2 separate regions of the Homo sapiens genome follow, and region 2 is linked to region 1. The links come from fine-mapping of genetic effects on plasma protein levels. Region 1 holds a variant in brackets. A gene starts in the other region. All regions are shown on their forward strands. Region 1 has its middle 48 kb from the start of SURF6. Region 2 holds the start of ESAM (endothelial cell adhesion molecule).

The links. PIP is the chance, under the fine-mapping model, that this variant and not a neighbour inherited with it causes the effect. Protein levels are from antibody-based Olink assays in UK Biobank. Linkage for the fine-mapping came from a reference panel and not from the study's own genotypes, which makes the PIPs less certain.
Region 2: it holds the start of ESAM, and the variant in region 1 is fine-mapped to the plasma level of the ESAM protein (UK Biobank, PIP above 0.99).

What each region holds. Positions count from the first base shown.
Region 1 is chr9:133,283,045-133,293,945 of GRCh38, forward strand. No RefSeq gene overlaps it. Among named protein-coding and RNA genes, the nearest start is that of SURF6, 48 kb to the right of the region's middle. The variant C/T (reference allele first, on the strand shown) is at 4,831.
Region 2 is chr11:124,757,706-124,768,606 of GRCh38, forward strand. It overlaps ESAM (endothelial cell adhesion molecule), which reads right to left and starts at 4,585. Exons shown (of 7, transcript NM_138961.3): 1 at 4,380-4,585; 2 at 644-822. The coding sequence starts at 4,449. It overlaps MSANTD2 (Myb/SANT DNA binding domain containing 2), which reads right to left. Exons shown (of 4, transcript NM_001308027.2): 4 at 8,793-10,323. The coding sequence ends at 9,471. ESAM-AS1 (ESAM antisense RNA 1) reads left to right here and starts at 1,429. Exons shown (of 2, transcript NR_120577.1): 1 at 1,429-1,708; 2 at 7,024-8,220. RefSeq lists enhancers at 523-682, 2,176-2,245, 4,140-4,643 and silencers at 4,374-4,783, 5,324-5,373, 8,488-8,782.

The sequences.
Region 1 (10,901 bases):
TTTCTGATTTTTAGTAGAGACAGGGGGGTCTCACTATGTTGTCCAGGCTGGTCTTGAACTCCTGGCCTTAAGTGATCTTCCCACCTCACGCCTGTCAGCCATCGTGCTCAGTTGTTAGAGGTTTTATAAAAATGAAAAATGTCACATACTGTTTTTCCAGAAACTTCATTGGCACTAGTAAGGTTCTAGGGAGTTGGCAAACACTGATTGGTGAATGACTGCAGTGGGTAAAGCTTAGATGAGTGATGGTGGCAGATGAAGCTGTGACTAGTGAGTGATGGTGGCGGGTGAAGCTCTGATTGGTGAGTGATGGTGGTGAGCAAAGCTCTACCAGATGAGTGATGGCGGCGGGTTGTGGGGGAAAGAAAGAGCGATCAGACGGTTACTGTGTCTATGTAGAAAGAAGTAGACATAAGAGACTCCATTTTGTTCTGTACTAAGAGATATTCTTCTGCCTTGAGATGCTGTTAATCTGTAACCCTAGCCCCAACCCTGTGCTCACAGAGACATGTGCTGTGTTGACTCAAGGTTTAATGGATTTAGGGCTGTGCAGGATGTGCTTTGTTAAAAAAGTGCTTGAAGGCAGCGTGCTTGGTAAAAGTCATCACCATTCTCTAATCTCGAGTACCCAGAGACACAATACATTGCAGAAGGCCAGGCCGCAGGGACCTCTGCCTAGGAAAGCCAGGTATTGTCCAAGGTTTCTCCCCATGTGACAGCCTGAGATACGGCCTCGAGGGAAGGGAAAGACCTGATCGTCCCCCAGCCCGACACCCATAAAGGGTCTGTGCTGAGGAGGATTAGTAAAAGAGGAAGGCCTCTTTGCAGTTGAGATAAGAGGAAGGCATCTGTCTCCTGCTCGTCCCTGGGAATGGAATGTCTTGGTGTAAAACCCGATCATACGCTCTAAATACTGAGATAGCAGAAAACCTCCCTATGGCTGGAGGTGAGACATGCTGGCGGCAATACTGCTCCTTAATGCACTCAGATGTTTGTGTAAAGTCAAGCATAAATCTGGCCTACGTGCACATCCAGGCACAGCACCTTTCCTTAAACCTATTTACGACACAGAGATCTTTGCTCATATGTTTTCCTGCTGACCCTCTCCCCACCATTACTCTATAGTCCTGCCACATCACCCTGTCCGAGATGGTAGAGATAGTGACCAATAAATACTGAGGAAACTCAGAGACCAGTGCCAGTGCGGGTCTTCCATATGCTGAGCACCAATCCCCTGGGCCCACTTTTCTTTCTCTATACTTTGACTCTGTGTCTTATTTCTTTTCTCAGTCTCTCATCCCACCTGACGAGAAACACCCACAGGTTGTGGAGCAGCTGGCCACCCCTTCAGCAGGTGAAGCTCTGACTGGTGAGTGATGGCGGTGGGTGAAGCTCTGATTGGTGAGTGATGGCAGCGGGGTGAAGCTCTGATTGTTGAGTGATGGCAGCGGGTGAAGCTCTGACTGGTGAGTGATAGCAGTGGGTGAAGCTCTGACTGGTAAGTGATGATGGCGGGTAAAGCTCTGATTGGTGAGCGACGATGGCAGGTAAAGCTCTGATTGGTGAGCGATGTGGTGGGTGAAGCTCTGATAGGTGAATCATGACAGTGGTTAAAGCTCTGACTGGTGAGTGACAGCAGCAGGTAAAGCTCTGGTGGATGATGGCGGGTGAAGCTCTGACTGGTGAGTGATGGTGGTGGGTGAAGCTGGTCTTAGTGTCCCTGCAGGTTGTTTCAGCAGCCATGAGATAAAACTGGCCTCCTCCAACTGGCTAAACCTTATGAAGGATTGGCCTGCTACCAATCAGAGGCTGAAGTGGAGACTTGGCCCATGATCATTCAGAGGCTGAAGTGGAAACATCTGTCATGTTATCACAAGAGTGAAGATGTGGCTTGTATGCTGCCTAGAACTTGGTAGGCAAGTGGTTGAATCTCAGTCTCTCGGGCTTACCGCCCCTCAGTGGGGCCAGGCACGGTGGCTCAGCCCATAATCCAAGCACTCTGGGAGGCTGAGGCGGGCGGATCACGAGGTCAGGAGATCGAGGCCATCCTGGCTAACATGGTGAAGCCCCGTCTCTCCTAAAAATACAAAAAATTAGCCAGGCCTGGTGGCGGGCGCCTGTAGTCCCAGCTACTGGGGAGGCAGAGGCAGGAGAATGGCGTGAGCCTGGGAGGCGGAGCTTGCAGTGAGCCGAGATCACGCCACTGCACTCCAGCCTGGGCGACAGAGTCAGAATCCGTCTCAAAAAAAAAATAAAAGAAAGAAAGAAAGGAAAAAAGAAAAAGAAAGGCTCAGGGGGTAGAGGAGGAGGCCAGATAGGAGAGTTGTGTGGAGCCCAGATAAGGATCATGTTTATATTGACACCTCTGGGCAGTGAGCCTGGCACCTGTAAATGCCTGTAAATCGCCAGGGAGCAGAGGACAGTGCTGGCTGGGAGCCTGTGTCTCAGCCCTGCCCCGTCGAATGATGTGGCCTGTGGCCAGGAATATCACCTCAGTCTTTCAATTTCCTCATCTGCAAAATGGGGATAGCAATGCTGGCCATTCCTTCTCCCAGATCAGTGATGTGGTCCGAAAGTCCTAAACAGTGTCACTAAGTAAGGTGAAGTCTAATAAGTCATAAATCCCAGCCTGCCATAGGGACCTAAGAGCTATTCCCCTTCTCCTTCCCTGTGGAATCTGGGACACAGCAAGGAGCAGGACCAGGTAGCAGCAGGCTTCATGCTCCTTCCCCAGCAGCCTTCAGAGAGGACACCAGGGTTACCCAGGGATGGTTACCTGGTCCCCAGATCACCTTGTTGTGGCAAGTACCAGAATTGGGCACTGGCCAGTGATGGGCTCATAATAGCTCCAGCCAAATGCCCCTCTTTCCTTTGTCCTTACAGGGAAGGTGGGTTACACTTATCCTCCTGGAGCCATAATTCCTTTTTTTTTTTTGGAGACAGATTCTCACTCTGTCACCCAGACTGGAGTGAAGTGGTGCAATCTTGGCTCACTGCAACCTCTGCCTCCCAGGTTCAAGCAATTCTCCTGCCTCAGCCTCTGTAGTAGCTGGGATTACAGGTGTGCACCACCACACCCAGCTAATTTTTTGTATTTTTAGTAGAGACGGGGTTTCACCATGTTGGCCAGGCTGGTCTCAAATGCCTGACCTCAGGTGATCCACCCACCTTGGCCTCCCAAAGTGCTGGGATTACAGGCGTGAGCCACCGCACCCAGCCCGGAGCCATAATTCCGTTAGGCCTTACCCTGCAGTGCCTGGGCACCTGCCCTAGTGCCCTATGTGATTACGAGCATAGGTAACTACTTCTTCTTTCTTCTTCTTCTTCTTTTCTTTTTTTTTGAGACAGGGTCTCAACCTGTCACCCAAGATGGAGTGCAGTGGCATGATCTTGGCTCACTGCAGTCTCAATTGCCTGGGTTCAAGTGATCCTCCCATATCAGCCTCTGCAGTAGCTGGGACCACAGGCGTGCACCACCATGCCTGGATGACTTTTACATTCTTTTGTAGGGATGGGGTTTCACCATGTTGCCCAGGCTGCTCTTGAACTCCTGGGCTCAAGCAGTCTTCCCACCTCAGCTTCCCAAAGTGCTGGGATTACAGGGGTGGGCGACTAGCCAAGCCTAGGTTAACTTCTTATACTGCAAAGTTACAGAGTGTGGCAAGAAAAAAATAAAGCTCTCCATCGAGTTCAGGGATGAGTCATTTCAGGAAATACCATTAGTTTTCAAGACAATGCAATTTATATAATATTGTAATTCCAAGCTCATCAATGTAGTTCAGATATTCTCACAGTCATGGCAGACTAAATCTAACTTAAAAGGAAGCACATGCTATAGAGGTCTCACAAGGACCTCACTAGGACCAGTTCTGATACTGTCCCAGTCTATTGTGTTGCCTTCACAGAATGCTTGAGACTTAGTAATTTATAAACAAAAGATGTTTGGTTCACAGTTCTGCAAGCTGTACGAGAAGCATGGCACCCCCATCTGCAGGGCTTCTGGTTAGGCCTCAGACTGCTTCCACTCAAGGCGGAAGGCAAAAGGGAGCTAGTAAGGAGTGTAATTCCCAGTTTTAAAAGTAAAGATTTGAAAGCATTAGTTTGGAGACTTGTAGCCCACAAAAATTTAGGATTTTGTCCAAACTGCCGAAAAACTCAAGAACAGCGAACAACAGGTATACTATAGCTTTTCTTTTGAAGCATAATTTTTCTCTCTTCAGTCTCCATTTTTATTAAAAACAAATCATGATAGAATGATTTGTTTACAAAATAAACTTTAGTCTTATTATACTTGGCCTGATTATTTGCACAAAGCACACCAAGAATAACTATTTTTCACATAGGCCTTTAAAATTGGCTTTGATGGAACTCTGTTCTGTAAGGAATCTCAAATAAGACTTTTTTAAAGCTAAGCCCAGCCATGGGTTTGTACACTCAAATACCTATGAGTTGGGTAAATTTCTCTCCTCCTGAGGTCCCAAGAAAACTTGGGTCTCCTGAGACTGTTAGAAAGTGACATTCTTTACTTACCACAGGTCAGGAACTTTGAACAGGGACTGTGTAGACAAGGTATAAGGCCAGATTTCCCAAGGGGCTTTTATTAGCTCAATAACTCAACTTTGATTCTCCTTTTTTTTTTTTCTGAGACAGAGTTTCACTCTTGTTCCCCAGGCTAGAGTGCAATGGCACGATCTCAGCTCACTGTGACCTCTATCTCCCGGGTTCAAGTGATTCTCCTGCCTCAGCCTCCAGAGTTGCTGGGATTACAGGCGCCTGTCACCATGCCCAGCTAATTTTTGGAATTTTTTTTCTTTTTAGTAGAGATGGGGT[C/T]TCACCATGTTAGCCAGGCTGGCCTCAAACTCCTGACCTCAGGTGATCCGCCTGCCTCAGCCTCCCAAAGTGCTGGGATTACAGGCATGAGCCACCTCGCCCAGCCAACTTTGATTCTTTAAAAAAAGCATGCCATTCTAGTCAAAGCCTTGATAAAATAACCAGTTTCTCCCATTGTGTCCTGTTACAAAAGAAAACAGATTATCATTGTACTTATGCAAATAACTATACTGCCATATGTTGAGAATATTCACAAATAGTTTCCAAATTCTGGAAAAATCAGGTAGGGAGAAACAAATATACTCCAAATTTTTTCACAGGAGTATATTTTATTCAACTGTTAAAAGCTGTAAGTAGCTTAAAAGAAAAGTTTTCTTGGCTCTGGAAAACAAAAAGGATCAGCAATGTTTTAAGCAAAAAAGTTAATACAAAAGATTACTGGGCTAGGCTCAATGGCTCACACCTGTAATCCCAGTACTTTGGGAGGCCAAAGTGGGTGGATCACCTTAGGCCAGGAGTTCGAGACCAGCCTGGCCAACATGGTGAAACCCCATCTCTACTAAAAATACAAACATTAGATGGGCATGGTGGTGAGTACCTGTAATCCCAGCTACTTGGGAGGCCGAGGCAGGAGAATCACTTCAACCCGAGAGGCAGAGGTTGCAGTGAGCCGAGATGATGTCACAACAGTCCAGCCTGGGAGACAAGAGCGAAACTCCATTTCAAAAGAAAAAAAAAAAAAGATTACTTCAGTTTTCTATTAGTTCAATCAATTCCATTAACTCCTGTTCTGTTTGATATTTATGAACATTTCAGCTCCCCATGAGAGTCCTGGAAGTTATTTCCTCTATTCTAATGTCACATTCTCCAAAGTTATTGGAAACCTGAATTCAAGAGCACCTGTCAAAGTTCTAGAGCTGATTATAAACCACCTTTTGAAGAGCATCAAACAAGACAACAATTGTCTGTGGATGACAACAATTGTCTGTGGATGACAACAAATCTTAGGACGGCCATTATTAAAGCCACAGTTGACTAGGAATTTGGTTACTTCTGTGGCATACAACAATTTTACATACAAATTATAACTATTATATTAACAGCATACATTCAATCATATCAGAATTATAGGAGTTTCTCATAATTTTGGAACACATACTAATAACATATTTATACAAATACAGCCCAAAGAAAGCCAAACAACATTTTATATTTGACAATGCTTCCTGTATGATTTTTATACCACGTAAGCCAGATGTCATTTTTGGACATTAGAGGACCTAATATCTAAAAGATTAGGTTAGAAAGAGACATAATTATAATCAAATTATAATTTATAATTTGATTTTGGAAAGTTTGTCAAATATCAAAGATTTATTTTGTGGATATCACAAAATAGAATCCCAGGTCACCATAAGTCATTCATTTGACCAAAATGATAACTCCAAAATTTTAAAAAGAAAAACCCTTTACTCTGATAGAGGAGACATAGCTTTCCAAACAAGAAGACCCAATGAAGATAGCATGAGGCCAACTGAATCGTATCTTCTCTCTCCTCCCCTTTTTCCCTGTAGTTTACCCAAAGGGGCAAACAAAACCCTTTCATTTTCTTTTACTATAAAAAATCTTTTACATAATCTTTTATGTAAAAAATCTTTTACATAAAAATCTTTTTCAAAAGAGAAAACCAAATTTAATGTTTGTATTAGTGCATTTTTAATGCTAAGGCTGGTTTTACAATAAAAATTTACAAATGTATTCAGTCTTAATTAGTCTGACCATAAGGTAAGATTTTCATAAACTTTTTTGAACACTTTATAATTTTTCATTAAACAGTCGATCAGTTTTCTAAGAAAACCCTGTTATTTGGACACCTGGGCTCAGATTCTGGCCCTGTATTCGTGTGCTTTTATTTTAATGTTCAACCTACAGAAAAAAAAATTAAATAATCCCCTTCCAATATTAGCCAACTTGCTCATACCCACAGAACTTTTTTTTACAAGACCAACCCTTCATAAGCCCTTTTCACTTTGTTTAAACCTCCAGTTTTGTCCCATTACTCTTTTAGGTTAAGATAATCTTTAAACCCTCTGAACTAGACAAAATTATATTCCTTTTTTGTTTTGTTTTGTTTTTGATATGGAGTCTTGCTCTGTCACCAGGCTGGAGTGCAGTGGTGCAATCTTGGCTCACTGCAACTTCCATATCCCAGATTCAAGCAATTCTCCTGCCTTAGCCTCCTGAGTAGCTGGGACTACAGGCATGTGCCATCGCATCCAGCTAATTTTTGTATTTTTAGTAGAGACAGGGTTTCACCATTTGGCCAGGATGGTCTCGATCTCTTGACCTTGTGATCCACCTGCCTCAGCCTCCCAAAGTGCTGGGATTACAAGCGTGAGCCACCGCGTCTGGCAACATTCCCTTTAATAAAAGCCATATTCCCATGCCTTCCTATAATCTTTTACTTTCCTTACACACCTTACATGTAGAACTGTTTCTCCAGTGGTCTCAATTACATGTTACAATGTTACCTCTTAGCAGCTTTTATTTTTGGTGAAAACCTGATAAGTGATTTTAATTATGTACTAGGTGTGGAGTCTAGGACATCAGACAGAAGTGAAGATAAGGCCTAACTCTTTCCAAAGTAGGCAAATTAAACAATTTTCAAAAGTCAAAGAAACAGCTTACAACCTTAAAACATTTAGTAAATCTGATATCTGACGTTAATTTAGACCAAATGTCTACATTTTGAAGACATTTTTGTTTTTATCAATAATTTCTAAAACTGTCTTTATTTCCAAAAGATTATTAAAGTCACGTGTACAAAAGGCATTAAAGTTTCTCTTTTTCTGACAAAATATTTGATTTCGGCATCTATTTTTAAGCCAATTAAACAGAGTTCTTTTTGTGTAAATATTACACACACAACACATATGAATACAGACAGATAGAAGATTCAGCACTTGTAAGATTTTTTATTTACCAGTTTCTTAATTGGATTACTGGCTTCAGGGTGGAGGAACAGGGCCAGGAAACCATGCAGTTTCTGGGGCCTAATAAGGAGGCACAGCTGGAAAGGAGAGACAGATCCCCCAAATTAGGGTGCCATTCTATATGTATCCTGGATCCCTAAAAAGGAAAGAAATACTACAGGAGAAGACAGTGCAGTGCTTCCACCACACATGTCATCGCAAGGAAAACCAAAGCCAATCAGCCCATTTTGTAACCAGCCAATCCCCCATGGGAGTCTCATCTCTCAGTGGGGGTTGGGGATGTTTCCGTATCTTCCAGGTGGCCAAGAGCATGTTTCTCTGATCCAAGCTTGCAAAGAGCTAAGTATGTCTTCATAACTGACATTAGCCAATTCTTAAAGTATATTTTTTACCTAGTTATTATATATCAAGCCCTCCTATAATTCAAAGTAATTTTTGATACCCCCAAGACTCAAAACCGTTAGATAGCACAATGCAAAACAGAACAGACTTAGATTTTGAGGGGGACCTATCTGCTTTTAATTCCTGGGGTTTCATGAGGAAAACAGGGTTTTTTCCCAAAATGGGGTCTATAGCACCTCCTCTGTTTTTCCCAAGGAATCTCAGGCTACCAGAAGTTATCTTAGGGCCTCTCATGTGTGCATTAATAGTGGTAAGACAAAATGGAGAAAAATAATTCAGTCGACTAAAAGAAAAAAAAAACCTTTTTCCAGCAAAACAAGATCCATGAAAAGAAAAGCATAAAGACCTTTTAAATATACCTACAGCTTGCTTATGCACTTTTAATTAAGTTGACTTTTAACCATAGTGGTCTTTAAAAAAATCCTTTCACATCTCTGATTACCTGACTTTATCCATGCAGTCAATATTTCTGGCTTTTGAACTTTACCAAAAGTAACCAACCTCCCAGGTGCTTCAAAGGCATGGTAAGCAGTTTCTTTTTTACTAGATTTAGAATCTCCCTAAGGTAGTTCAGAGAAAGAAAAATTCAAGAGAAGAAATCAGAAGCTATCCATAAAAACCTCAAATGGCAAAGTTACACACATAACAAACCAGAAAGGAATCATTCCAGAAGCCAAGAATTGAACCCAGGCCACCACTGTCAAAAGATAAACCCTTAGTTACTGAACTATACAGCATTGAGCAGTTTCTATTGCTTTTCCCAAAAGGAGCCTAGAGAGGCCAATTTTGAGTTTGAGAAGGCTTTTAACTGCTCAAGATAATTCTTAGGGCTGTGACATGAACCTCAAAATTCCTGTCCTCTGGATGGCAGAAACCAAGATAAAGTATCCCCACAAGGTTAAGCTCTTAAGGACACAAAACAAGACCGATCTTACCGAGTATTGTTTTCAGGGACCCGTAGCATAGTTTGTAATTGACCAGTCTGCTGGGTTGGCTTGAAAAATGGGCTTATAGGGATCCTAAACCCACATTGTATCCTGTGATACTCCTTTCTCCATTACAGAATATAGAAAGACAAACTTTTAGTACAAAGTACACCAGATTTGCTACAGCCTAAGACCAGTCTCACAAATCCATTTTTCTATTAATCAAACTCTTGCAGAGGAGACAAATATAGTGACATTTACCATTTATGCAGACAGAGAAAGAGAGACCAGAAACTTGGCTGGTAAGAATTTCTTATCCTTTTTTGGCATACCAGATTTATGGGTTCCCTTTCTCTGCAGCTTCCAGAAGAATGGAGCACCTTCTGATGACCCTGCTCGCTGTGCCATAGCTGTGGGATTCAAGCCACTTTACAAAAGAAAATCACCCTTTTCTGTTTTATGGAACCATAGGCAAAAGATAATCAATTTGCAAGATGTTGCCCAATGGGCTGCATTGGGGAACTGAATGAACATTTTCCATCCCAGCAAAATACACAAAACAAAACAGACACTAGTCACCCCATTCAGCACCCAATATCAACCTAGCAAAGCTCAAACTTTCTCCAGACGGTCCCTGTTGTCTTTGATCCATTCCAGCTGGGGAGGGATGACCTCCAAATGATAATTCACAGTGGGGTCTCTGGGCAAGGCAAAGAGCCAATAGTCACCCCGAGAAAGGCCTATCGAGCTTTCTTCAGGGCTCACCAAATGTGACCAGACAAATAAGGAGGATTCTCCAAGTTAGGCCTGCTGGACTTCCATCAGCAATTTCTTCTGAGATCCCCTCCACATATACAAACACACACAAAGACACGACAGACAGAAGGCCTTCCAAATCAGATCCCCAACAAAGAACTCAAGAGTATCCCTCCCAAACTATCTTCCTATTCTCTGTCTGAGAAATCTCCCCAAAATCTTCTGGACTGAGAAGAAGTCTCCCCAACCAAGATTCTTCCTACTAGTTAGGGAGAGCCAACAGAGACCCCCTAGGAGCCAAACTGAGACAGACACCCCGCAATGGGGCTACAGACAAACAGACACCCCACCAGGGGGCTACAGAACCAGTCGGGAGAAGGAAGGGGTCATTGGCGGTACCTAGAATGCTCATCAACCCAGACCCCCACAATGGGATGCAGACAGACACCCCACCATGGAGCTACAGACAGACACCCTGTGATAGTGCTACAGTTAAGGGATATCGCCCCAGGACTATTTCTCCATTGCAATTAAATCCATGCACATTGGGTTGGCAGCACCCCGCCAGTAGAGAGTACCAAAGTCAGCCCCTAGTCCAAGAGAACTAGGCAGATGCTTGGGCTAGCCTCTGGATCCATCGCTAGAGAGGGGCTACCAAACCACGGGCAGGTAGCTGCAAGGGCAATCCTGATGAGCCTCGAAATTTGTAACCACCCAGTGGGTTCACTTTGCCCACTGCCTAGACAGAGTGGATTTATCAAGACAGGGGAATTGTAATAGAGAAAGAGTAATTTACACAGAGCTGGCTGTGTGGGAGACTGGAGTTTTGTTATTGATCAAATTAGTCTCCTGGAGCATTTGAGGATCAGAGTTTTTAAGGACAACTTGGTGAGTCAGGGGAAGCCAGTGAGCCAGGAGTGCTGATTGGTTAGGCAAGAGATAAAATCATGGGACGATGAAGCTGTCCTCTTGAACTGACTGTTCCTGGGTGGGC
Region 2 (10,901 bases), not on the chromosome of region 1:
TTTTTTTTTTGAGACAGAGTCTTACTCCGTCGCCCAGGCTGAAGTGCAGTGGCTGGATTTTGGCTCACTGCAACCTCCACCTTGTGGATTCAAGCAATTCTCTTGCCTCAGCCTCCCAAGTAGCTGGGATTACAGGCGGGTGCCACCATGTCCGACTAATTTTTGTGTTTTTAGCAGAGACGGGGGTTTCACCATATTGGCCAGGCTGCTCTCGAACTCTTGGCCTCAAGTGATGTGCCCACCTCGGCCTCCCAAAGTGCTGGGATTACAGGTATGAGTCACTGAGTCAGGCCAGAAATATGCTAACTTTTATAAGTCGTGTGTGTTACTTCCCCTAAGCGTTTCCCAGTCCTCAACTTCCATTCTTCCCCTCCTCCTCTCCTCCCTCATAACCAAGTAAAATGCCTCTCACACTTTTACAGTATTTTGTGTGCTGGATTTTTAGGGAAAGCCGGCAAAAGATAATTGTTTGGGAAGTCTCCAATATCAGAACAAAAACTGAACTGGTGAAGACTTCTGCTTTTCCCTGAAACTCCTTCCCCGGCCCCCATTCCCTCTCCACCCCTCCCACCGCTACCAGCTCTTTGCTTACAACCCCCTCTGGGCGCAACTTGCCGCTGGCTGACAGGCGTTCTTCCCTCACCTGATCCTCCTTTTCTTTCTGTTTGAAGAACCACATCACAAAGGGCACCTCCCATGGCTGGGATGAAGACACCTCCCCGTGCAAGGTGTACCACGCTGGAAGCACCACTTCCCCTCCCTCCACCGCCTGCAACCGGTTGGCGGGCAAGTGCAGTTGCAGCTGGGCCCGCGAGGGGGGCGCTGGAGACAAGAGCGAGGCGTGAGTGCCCAGGACCGGCTCCCAGCTCCGCCCGCGGACCCTGCCCTACGCGGCTTCACCAGAGAGCGAGGAAAGTCGCTTTAACTGGAAAGAGGAACCTTGCGGGGTCCGGCCCCTGGAGGCCTCAAGGGGTGCCCAGGGACCACTGGCTCAGTGTCCTGCTTCCCATTTCATCACGACTTCTCTCCACCGCCAGCCTCTGCAGTTGTAGCGGGGATGGGGACACATTTATATGCATTTATTCGTATCCAGAGGCGCAGATTTCTGAGCATCAAAGAGAGGGGGCAGATTTCCAGCGAGGAGGGGAAGATATGAGAAGAAAGGGTGGACCGACTGTTTCTGTCGTACGCGCCACGTAGCCCACTTGCTTCCCTAGTTTTCCTGAGGGAGAGTAGGGATGCTGCTCCGGGCCGCCAGGGTCCCTCACTCCCGAGTTCTCAAAGGGCGGAGGGGTTTGGGAGGCCGTCTGGTTACCTATTAACCCTGCGGCTCCTTCTGAGCTTGCCAGGAGCTGGAGAGAGCAGAGCAGCCCAGCGCCCAAGCCTGACCCAGTGAATGCGATGCTCCCCGCCCTCCCGCGCAATCTCAGAGGCGGGCTTCCCTCGGAAAACGGAGGGTTGAAACCCAGAAAGCTCCTCGGAGCCCTTCTGGGGTTCGGGCGATCTGGGCAGAGAACTCTCGGGTGGCAAGGAATTAAGGGCAGCGCGAACGACGGTCTCTAGACAAGTATGAAGCCTCCCCTGAGTGTGTCCGGCGCTCAGGGGGTGGACCGGGGTGTTGGTTTCAAGGAGGGGGCCATCGTTTGCACCACGGCGTCCAGAAATACTCATCCTTTGCCCTTCGGGGAGGCAACAGAGCAGCCAACTGGTAAGCCCTTTGGGGAATAACCTTGGGCTTGCACACGGCCAGGCCTGAGGATGATCGCCGCTCCAGTCCCGGGCCCTACTCCCTCCAGGCCTCGGCCCTCTGCCTCGGAGCGGAAGACGCCACCTCCGCGTGGCGAGCAGGCGGCCAACGCCGCGGGAAGAGGCCGCAGCCAGGCCCCGCTCTCCACCCTCGCCCTAGGAGAGCCAGGCTGAAGGCCTCTAAGGGCTGGGAGCCGATCCGGCCAGGATGCAAGCCTCCCCCACCGCTTCCCGGCTGCGCCGTACAGAACCCCCACCTCTGTTACTTGGCCTTCGCAGCATCCCCCTTCCCATTTCCTGGAGGATCTCTGTGGTCTGGGCAGGAAATTTGTACCCAGTGATAAGGCAGAAGACAATGAAGGGGGGGCCACTAGACCGGAGGCTCTACGGGAGGAAACAATCCCCGCCTCAAGGAGCTGGACGCCCCCTGGGGACCCGGCCCGCTGGCCATTCCGCTGAGGCCGGGCACGCCTGGAGCCTGCAGGTGCTGCCGGCTCTCCCCCAGCCTTTCTACGACACACACCCGGCGGCCAGAAAGGGTTTCCGCCGGGAAACTGCCTGGGGCCCAGAAGGGGCGCGCCCTTCCTTCACCTTGTGGACCACCAGCGACCTCCCCAGGTCCCACATTTATAATTCCACTTTCCAGAAGGTAGAGGAGAGTTAAAAGAGATAGTAACGGACACACTGGGGTCTGGGCACATGCTCCTTGCCCTTCGCCCTGTCAGAAACTAGGAACAGAAGAGGGCCTGAGGCTTTTCTGCTCTCCCTCCTGGGTGTCTGCTGGCTCGGAAGTCACCAACTGGTCCGTTTTTTTCGGTCCCAGGGTCCACGGAGCCACTGGGAGAGAAAAGGAGTCTGGTTGGGTCTGATCGAAGGACACTGGGACAGCCCAAGAAAGGGACCCTTCCGGCCCACAGCCCTCTCCGAGGCCAGAGTGAGGGAGCCGGCAGGGGCCGAAGGAGAGCGAAATGGGCCCGCTCCCCGGGGCTATTTTTAGTCTCCCTCTTTCTCTGAGAAACTCCCCCCGCGGGCTTCTCACGCCCCAGGGGCAGCAGCACTGAGCCGCCGAGGAGCCTACTGAGCCGGAGAGCCTCCTCCAGAGCCCAGAAGAGCGGAGCCGGGCGCCTGCACGTTGCACCGGGGTCACCAGTGCCATTTAACCCTCGAGTGGCTGGCGGGAACTGGGCAACCCCCCAGGGGGACCGATTGGAACTTTTGAGTCCAGGTCTTCAGTCTGACAAACTGAGGCTCAAAGCTGGGGTAGGACAAAGGGTTGCAGATGAGCAGCAGGTGAAGCCTGGGACACTCAGGCAGTCAACTTGAACTGTCCTCCCTGGCTTCAGAGATTCCCCCAGCCCCCACCCCCCACAAGGAAGGGGGATAGAGTTGGGGTGGAATGCAGAAGGAACAGAGCTGAAGTTGAAGTTGGGAAAGGCGGGATGAGAAGTCTGAGGGATCCTGGAGCAGGCCCACCAAGCCCAGAGGGACAGAAGGCTACTTGTGGCCTTGGTGTGGCCTGGGGGGCTGTACTTGAGACTCATTTTGTCCAAGGACTATAATATTGCATGCCCCGACACCTGTGGGGCACAGAACATGCTAAAGGGGACACTGGTGATCCTCATCTCTGTCCCCATCATTGTAGAATTTCACTCTACAGCTTCCCAGGCCTTACTTGTCCTGACATCCTCCAACCTGAGAAATGAGTTAAAGTCAATATAGCTAAACCCACCCTTCACTCCCATTCGAGATCCTTGAAGGGAGATGGCAAGAAAGCTGAGGGACAGCAAGTGAAATAGTTTAAAAGGGCCTAGTCCTGCCGGGTCCTCTCCCAGATGGAGTTCTGAGCCACCCCAGCTTCAGCTGAAGCCAGCGCCCCTGGAGGCCTACAACACTTCCCAAACACTTGCTCCAAGGAGGTTCCCTTCCTCTCTGACCCTTGGCCACCCTCCTCCCAATTTCCCCTCTTCCCTTTGGCTCTGGAAACCAATAAGGGTGGTGGGCCTTGGGGGGGTGGGGTGGTCACAATTCTGTTTCTCTGTGCGTTTGAACCCCTCCCCCATTTCCTGTGTCCCAAATGACCTCACGGTCGTCCTTTTGGGGCACCTCCCTTGATTCCCAGGGCAGGAAGCAGGAGGGGGCAAGAGAGAGCATCTGCGCTGGGGAATTGACACGAAGTGCGTGTGTCAAGCCTGGGGACCAGGGGTATTTCCCCGGGGGATCTTCCTCATCAGCTTGTATGTGGGGTCGGGGATGAGAGGGGGCTAGAGTTAAGTCCTTAAGCTCTTTAGCCAGTGTCTCATCTAGCGGCTCAGCTCATCCGGCTCTGCTGGGTGGGGGGTGGGGAGTGGACAGGGTGAGGAATGGTTCCGATAACTCACCCCAGAGGTATCCAGGTCTTCCGAGAGATGCCCTTACCTCCCCCCGCCATCCGCCCCCACACCCAAACTGGGGGCTGTCCCCGACAAAGCGAGAAGTCAGCGCCAGCCAGTGATGCCCTGGAGTGGGATTAGGAGGTCAGGGGAGGAGGGCGAGTCGTGGGACCCAGTTCCGCAGCAGTGGCCAAAGTTCTCCCTCAGGGTCGAACTCACCCCATCCCGCATCCCAAGTCCCCTCCAGGTCCGGGTTTCACTCACCGAGGGCACTCAGCCCCAGGAACAAAAACCGCAGCAAGTTGGTCACCAGGGGCCCCGGGAGGGAAATCATGGCCCTCCCTGGCCGGGACGGAGTCAGGGGCGCCAGCCGCGGGACGCACGGACCTGCAGGTGCCGAGGCTGCGCGACGGCCGGAGCGTGCGCGGGAGCCGAGCCGCTGACACCCAGGGCGGCTCCAGCCCAAGTCTGCGCGCCTGTGTGCCGGTGGCGGGGTGGGGACCGACGGCGACAGCGGGGCGGGGCATTCGAGGGGGCGGAGAGGTCGCCGTCCTCCCGGGCGGGGCGCGCGGGGTCCGCCGCCCGGGGGCGCCCCCAGCGCGCGGACGGCGGGACCCTGCGGCCTCCTCCAGGTCTGGACGCAGGGAGGGGTGAGGTAAGCTCTGATGCCCCACGAGCCAGCCAGGTACGAGTAGAGGGGGAAGAGGAGGCTCCAGAACTATCCTGAGCCGTAACCTTCCCTTCCGCCGGGGTGGGATAGGAAGGGTGACCAGGAAGGGTGGGAAATTTGGGGACTATCCGAAGTCAGAACCACCCGTAACACCTGACATGTAAACGCTCCTGGGCTCTGGCTCCAAACTTGGGGGTGCCGCATCCCCGGCCCAATCAGGGCGGTCTTCCTGAAGGAGGAAGAGGGGAGCAGCGTTTTCCAGCTGCAGGGAGAGGCCGGAGCGCCGGCCGCGCGGGCTCCCTGGCACAGCGGGAATCTGTGGCTTTCCTGGAGGCGGGGGCTGCGCGGCCACCGGAGCGCGGCAGCGAGGGCGACGGCAGAGGTCGCGCGGGAGCCCAGGGCGCCCCGGGACGCGCCAGCGGGGAATCTTCACCCGCGGGCAGGAAAAAGCGCTCCGCGAGTTCAGCAGACCCCAGCCCAGGCTGGAGGATTACCCCGGCCTGTGCCTCATACTCCGAGCAGGGAAGGTTGGCACAAGGTAGTCCCGGGAGCTGAGCAGGAAACTGAGGCAACGTGCGTGCTGCTCCCAGCTTAGCCCCTGAAATGAGCGGCGTACGGGCCTGATGCTGACTGGGGAGGAGGGGCGGCTGCGGGAAGGAAGACAGGACAGTCCCTCCGTTTCTTCTTTATCCCCCAAATCTTCAGTGCCTCCCATCCCCGCAGCGAAAGGCTCAGGCGCGCTCTGATCCTTTAATTCCCGAGACTAGATCTTGGTCGCTGTGAATTGAATTTTACGCCCCCCTTCCCGCGCCATTCGGTCAAAAGGCACCTCTGCGCCCTCTGGCGGCCGCCGCTCCCTTACAGAAAGGCACGCACCTGTTCTTGCTTTTCTGTCCAACAGCCAAAAAAAAAAAAAAAAAAAAAAAAAAAAAATGCTTCAAACATCCCAGCACAGCTCAACCACCCAGCAAAGGTCAGTGAGGGAAGAAAGCATAACAACGAATTCCTGACGCTGCCCGCTCTGCGGGCAGAGCTGTCTGGGAAGAAAAGCAGCCAGGCCTGCGGGATTCCATTTACTGCACATAGTTTTGCTGTTTTAACAGAGTGTAGTCCCTGGGCCCACACTTCACACAAGATCTTTTTCTATACAGTGCCCCATATGCCCTCTCAGCTGCTTCTTTCTAGTGTGACCTGCCTGGCTCCTCTTCAAATACCTGCCATGCAGTGGCTTTGAGAAATGCCTATGCAAACACAAAACTGCTCATGCAAACCCTAGAATCTAGTACTTGGCAGCTCAGTGGAGGCACAGACAACAGGAAGAGATACCTGCCAGTCTCACACTCTTGTGTAGGGAGCTACAAACTTGGACTTGGCCAAGCAGATTGTGTGGTGGGGTTGGGGGCTGTTGGTTTGGTTTTCCTATTCCATCACACTCAAATTTTTCTTGGCTTTAGTCTGCATTGCAAACCATCTCTTGTAAACACCCCTCCTTTGTTTCCAGACAAGTCACCCCAAATAAGTAACTCCTTCCAAGAGAGGAAGTACAAAGTCTTTTGGTTCTAACCCAGAAACACCAAGTATCTAATCACACAGGCTGTGCTTATCCTGATCAAGTGCTACATAAGGTGTAGCCTCAACATTCATTCCCTGTAGCTAACTTTTCCTTCAGAATTCAGATCCCAAATGACTTGTGACATGGGAAGTAAAGCTGCAACCAATGATTTGTAGTCAGTGAATGTCTCCATGTGACACAGGGGCAGTCTCTTCAAGATTCTTTGACCGTAAAGAATTGTCCTCACTGTCTCCTGTCTCCTATTTCAGCTATTTCTTTCTTCTGACCCTGAGGGCAGTCAAGTCGTAGAAGTTAGCAGAGCAGCTCCATTACTTTGTGAAAGTTTTCACCAAGATGCATTTTAGGGTGGACTGCTCTCCACCCTGGTGTAAATCATGAATGCTGACACAGATGATCTATGTGCGACCTGGGAACTGCTTACATAAACGTGTGCAAGAGCTAGTTCATAGTTTCATATGTTAGAGACTTGCAGGTCATTAGTGTTTCTTCCAATCACATCTCATGTTAGATTCCGAAAGTAATTCCTAATATTTACCTTTACATTTGAATATACTTTCTCTGTCCCCCTTGAATCAGTTATAAGGCTTCATTAAGGTCTAAATATTCCATTTCTTATTTTCGGCAGTGCTCATAGTTATCTGACATCCTGCTATCTTCTTTTCTAGACTGTTCTGGCCAAAGAGACTGGAGATCCAGTATCAGCAAGCTACTTTCTTGGTAAACCTCCATTTCCCAATGCTCATCTTTGTCCTCTACCCCCACCCATCCCAAGGCAAATGATGAAAACATCTATTGGATCCAGCCTTTGCTATCTTCTCCATGCTGCTCATAGTGGGTCTAGCAATGTCCCATTCTCGGTAATGTTTGGTAGGTCTAAAACATCCTCACGAAATGTTCCCCAAATGTTCTGCTCCAGCTGAGCAACTAATAACAATGGGAAGATGCAGAAAAAAAATGCATGGAGCATAATGTTAGTTTTGGGACTCGTCAGTGGCAACGTTTTAGAGATGCCATGAAGAATTCCTGGTAATAATCCTTCTTCCTACAGCATTTAGCAATGAATACTATGGGATTATGGCTAAAAGATGGTCAAGACTGCCTCAGCCATTAGGATCAGAATTCTAAGTTCCAAAGAAGAGCAAACTCAAGAGGATTTCCTCAGGCCTCTGACTATAGATGCTGCCTGGGGAGAACAGGTGCTACACTCAAAACATTCTCATTTTATTTATATCCTCCCTGAACTAGTACCCAACTCCATAACCCCAGACTCAAATAACAGAAATAAAAGCCATCTCACTGATTATAAGCTCTCTAGTTATTACAAAAATAAATAAGCATCAATCAACCAACAGGCATCAGAATGAGAAAATCACTGATTTGAGACATTCAGGCTGCAGGAAAAGAACACTTTTTGTTAATATGTAACTATATCTTCAGTAGTACAGAAAAATGAGAAGAACGAGAGTTCTTACCTGGATTTGCGGCTCACTTAAAGTAGAGCACCTGAGATGCTGGGAAATCATAAAGATAAATAACCAATCTAACAAATTCCTGCCATGAGACCAAAGTGATCCTTGACTACTCTATTAGTAAGCGACTCTGAGCCAAGAGTACGAACCTGTAAGTGGAGTGGTGGTTGGCCCATTAGAAATCTCTGAAAGATCTAAACATGACAGTTACCTTCCTACTGGACTCATACTTCTCAATTCCCTCTCCTAAAAGAATACTTTTGGGCTGGCCCCAGTGGCTCACACCTGTAATCTCGGCACTTTGGGAAGCCAAGGTGGGAGGATTGCTTGAGGACAAGAGTTTGAGACCAGCTCGGTGGAAACATAGCACCATCCATGTCTCTACCAAAAAAAGAAAAAAAAAAGTGAAAAACATTGCTGGCGTGGTGGCACTTGAGCCTGTAGTTTCAGCTGCTCAGGAAGCTTTGAGGCAGGAGGATTACTTGAGCCCAGGAGTTCGAGACTGCAGTGAGCTATGATTGTACTACTGCACTCCAGCCTGGGTGACAGAGCAAGACCCTGTCTTAAAAAAAAAAAAAAAAAAAAAATTTCTACTGGATCTTCCTTCCTTTTGAGAGATAGCAAGATTACATCAGTTTTCCAGTTGTACTCCTTGAGAGCTGCCCCTGAGTACTGAGTGTAAAAGATGAGGAATGAGTCTCTTACAAATTGATGTACTTAGGGTCAAAAGGATTATCCTAGTCATTTTTAGTCATTTTTCAAAGAATTACAAAATGAGATGTTCAGTGACCTTTGGTACTCTGACAGTAAATAATGACATTGGTCAGTGAGGTATAGAGAATGAAAGGATGTGAAGATACCCTGCTCTGTTTGTTCTCTTCATTCTTAGCAGTCAAGTCAGAGCGCAGCCCCCACTGCCAGTGCAGCCACACTCTGCTACAAAAAGCTCAACTAGTACGCCAAGGGGCCAGGAATTACTTTAATTTTTTTTTTTTAAAAAAAGGTTTAAATGGCAACACAACTGTAAAGTTGGTACATCACAGAAACAAAGGTCTTTGCAAGCAATACTGATTGGAAATAGCAAAACACTTGGCTGGTGAAAAAAATGAAAATCTAAATTATATACAATAGTAGCTAAGGGTGATATTGAAAAAGTCTTTTTAACTGTGAATCAAGATTTAACTTGCCATTATCTATTGCTTATTTATTCAGGGTTGTAAATATTACTTATATAGAGACATAGAGATGTGTAAAAATGAAACATTGTGAAAAAAATACAATTTTTCAATTTCATATGAAACTCAAAGTATAAGTTTTGTCCAATATGGAATGTACCTACATTTGTTTATATTAGGGCTCTAAAATCCATTTAAAAATTGTTTTTCTGTTTTTAAAAAAGAAATAGCTGACCCACCATGCAAGTTCGCTATATATCTTGCTTGCTCAAAATGAGCATTTTCAGGTGAGGTCTGTTTTTTCTGGCCCAAGTCTACTATGATTCCTTAGAAGTCGTACTGGCCCAATTGAAGAAAGGGTTTCCATGAAGAGTCTGACGGCGGCATCTGGATGAGGGGTGGTCCGGGTAATGGGAAGTGAGTAGAGAAGAAGGAGCTAAGAGCCCAAATCCTTATGAAGGATGACATTCAGTTGTTAAATTTTAAGGGGTATCCAATGGCTTTTTCCAGGCACTCAACTAAAGAGCCTGCGGAAAGAAAATCCCTCTCTACTTCTACAAATTTGATGTAGATGGATTTGGGGGAAACTCCGGGATCCACAATACAGTTCTGAGACAAAAACCCGTTAATACCAACCCAATCTTTGCTGAAGGTTTTGGTATTCGCTTGGAAATGTAAAAATAAGCACTGCTGTAGAGTCCTGACCTCAGCAATCCCGAGGTAGCAATAGATAATTCGGGTGGGTTCTATTTCCACCTGTAATGAGGCTTGTGCTGAAAGGGTTTCCAGGTCAACCCGGCCCTCTTTTCCTGGGTCCAGGGAACTTTGCTCCATGTGTGGTGAGAGGGGCCTCTCAATACATTCTTCATAGCCAATGGCATAAAGGCCTGGGCTTTTAGGAATACCCCCAGGCAATAAATATTGAACAACATTCCCACCAGTTGGTTTGGAGTGGGCAATGGGTATCCAGTCAATTTCCATGTGCAGCTCCAAGCACCTAGCTTCGCTAATAGTGATCTCTAAAAATTTGTAGTAAACATTTTTCCAGTTCATTTTCTGCACTCGGGTCATAATGATCCGTCCTTCAGGCTTCTCAGAGTTGAAGTACTCCCGAAGTCGCTTGCCAAGGGGCACCTGGGAGCTGATCTCAGCATAATGGTAACGGATATCCTCTTTCCAACGGGTGTTATAACCAATTCCAAAAATGGCCAGTTTATTAGAAAGATGGAGCCTTGAAAAGTCTGTCCAGCTCTGAAAAAGTTCCCATTTCAACTGTACCGATTCCAAAATCTGTACAATATTCTGCATGATGTCTCTCTTCCTGGAAAGACAAATAAAAGTCAAATTCCCTAAGTATCTAGAACAGCGGTGTCAGATAGAACTTTCTGTGATGATGGAAATGTTCTGTATCTGCTGCCCAATATGGTGGCCACTAGAACATGAAATGTGGCTGAGGTATTACATTTTTAATTATATTTAGTTTAAAATTACATTTAAATAGCCACATGTGACTAGCAGCTACTGTACTGGGCAGTGTAAGTCTAGACAATCAACCTATTAAAATGAAAAGAAACACACCCCTAGCAAGTTTCTAAGAATTAATGATAAACTGCTTTCCATGACTTCTACAGCCTCACTGTATAATCAGAATCAATACCTTAGACTCTAGGATTTCAGAAATCTATGGATCATAATATTTTAAAGTGGCTATTATGTCTATGATGGCCTTCAGACCTACCTACCTACCAAAATAAGGTGAAAAATGCTGTATTTAGAAAAGTATCTGGCGTCACTTAAAATAATTAACAGCTTAATTTCTAACCTGGAAATTCAGAAAGTCCAATAATGGGCTTTGTGTGTGCTGTGGGAAAATATACAACTGATTATGGCTAATGACCT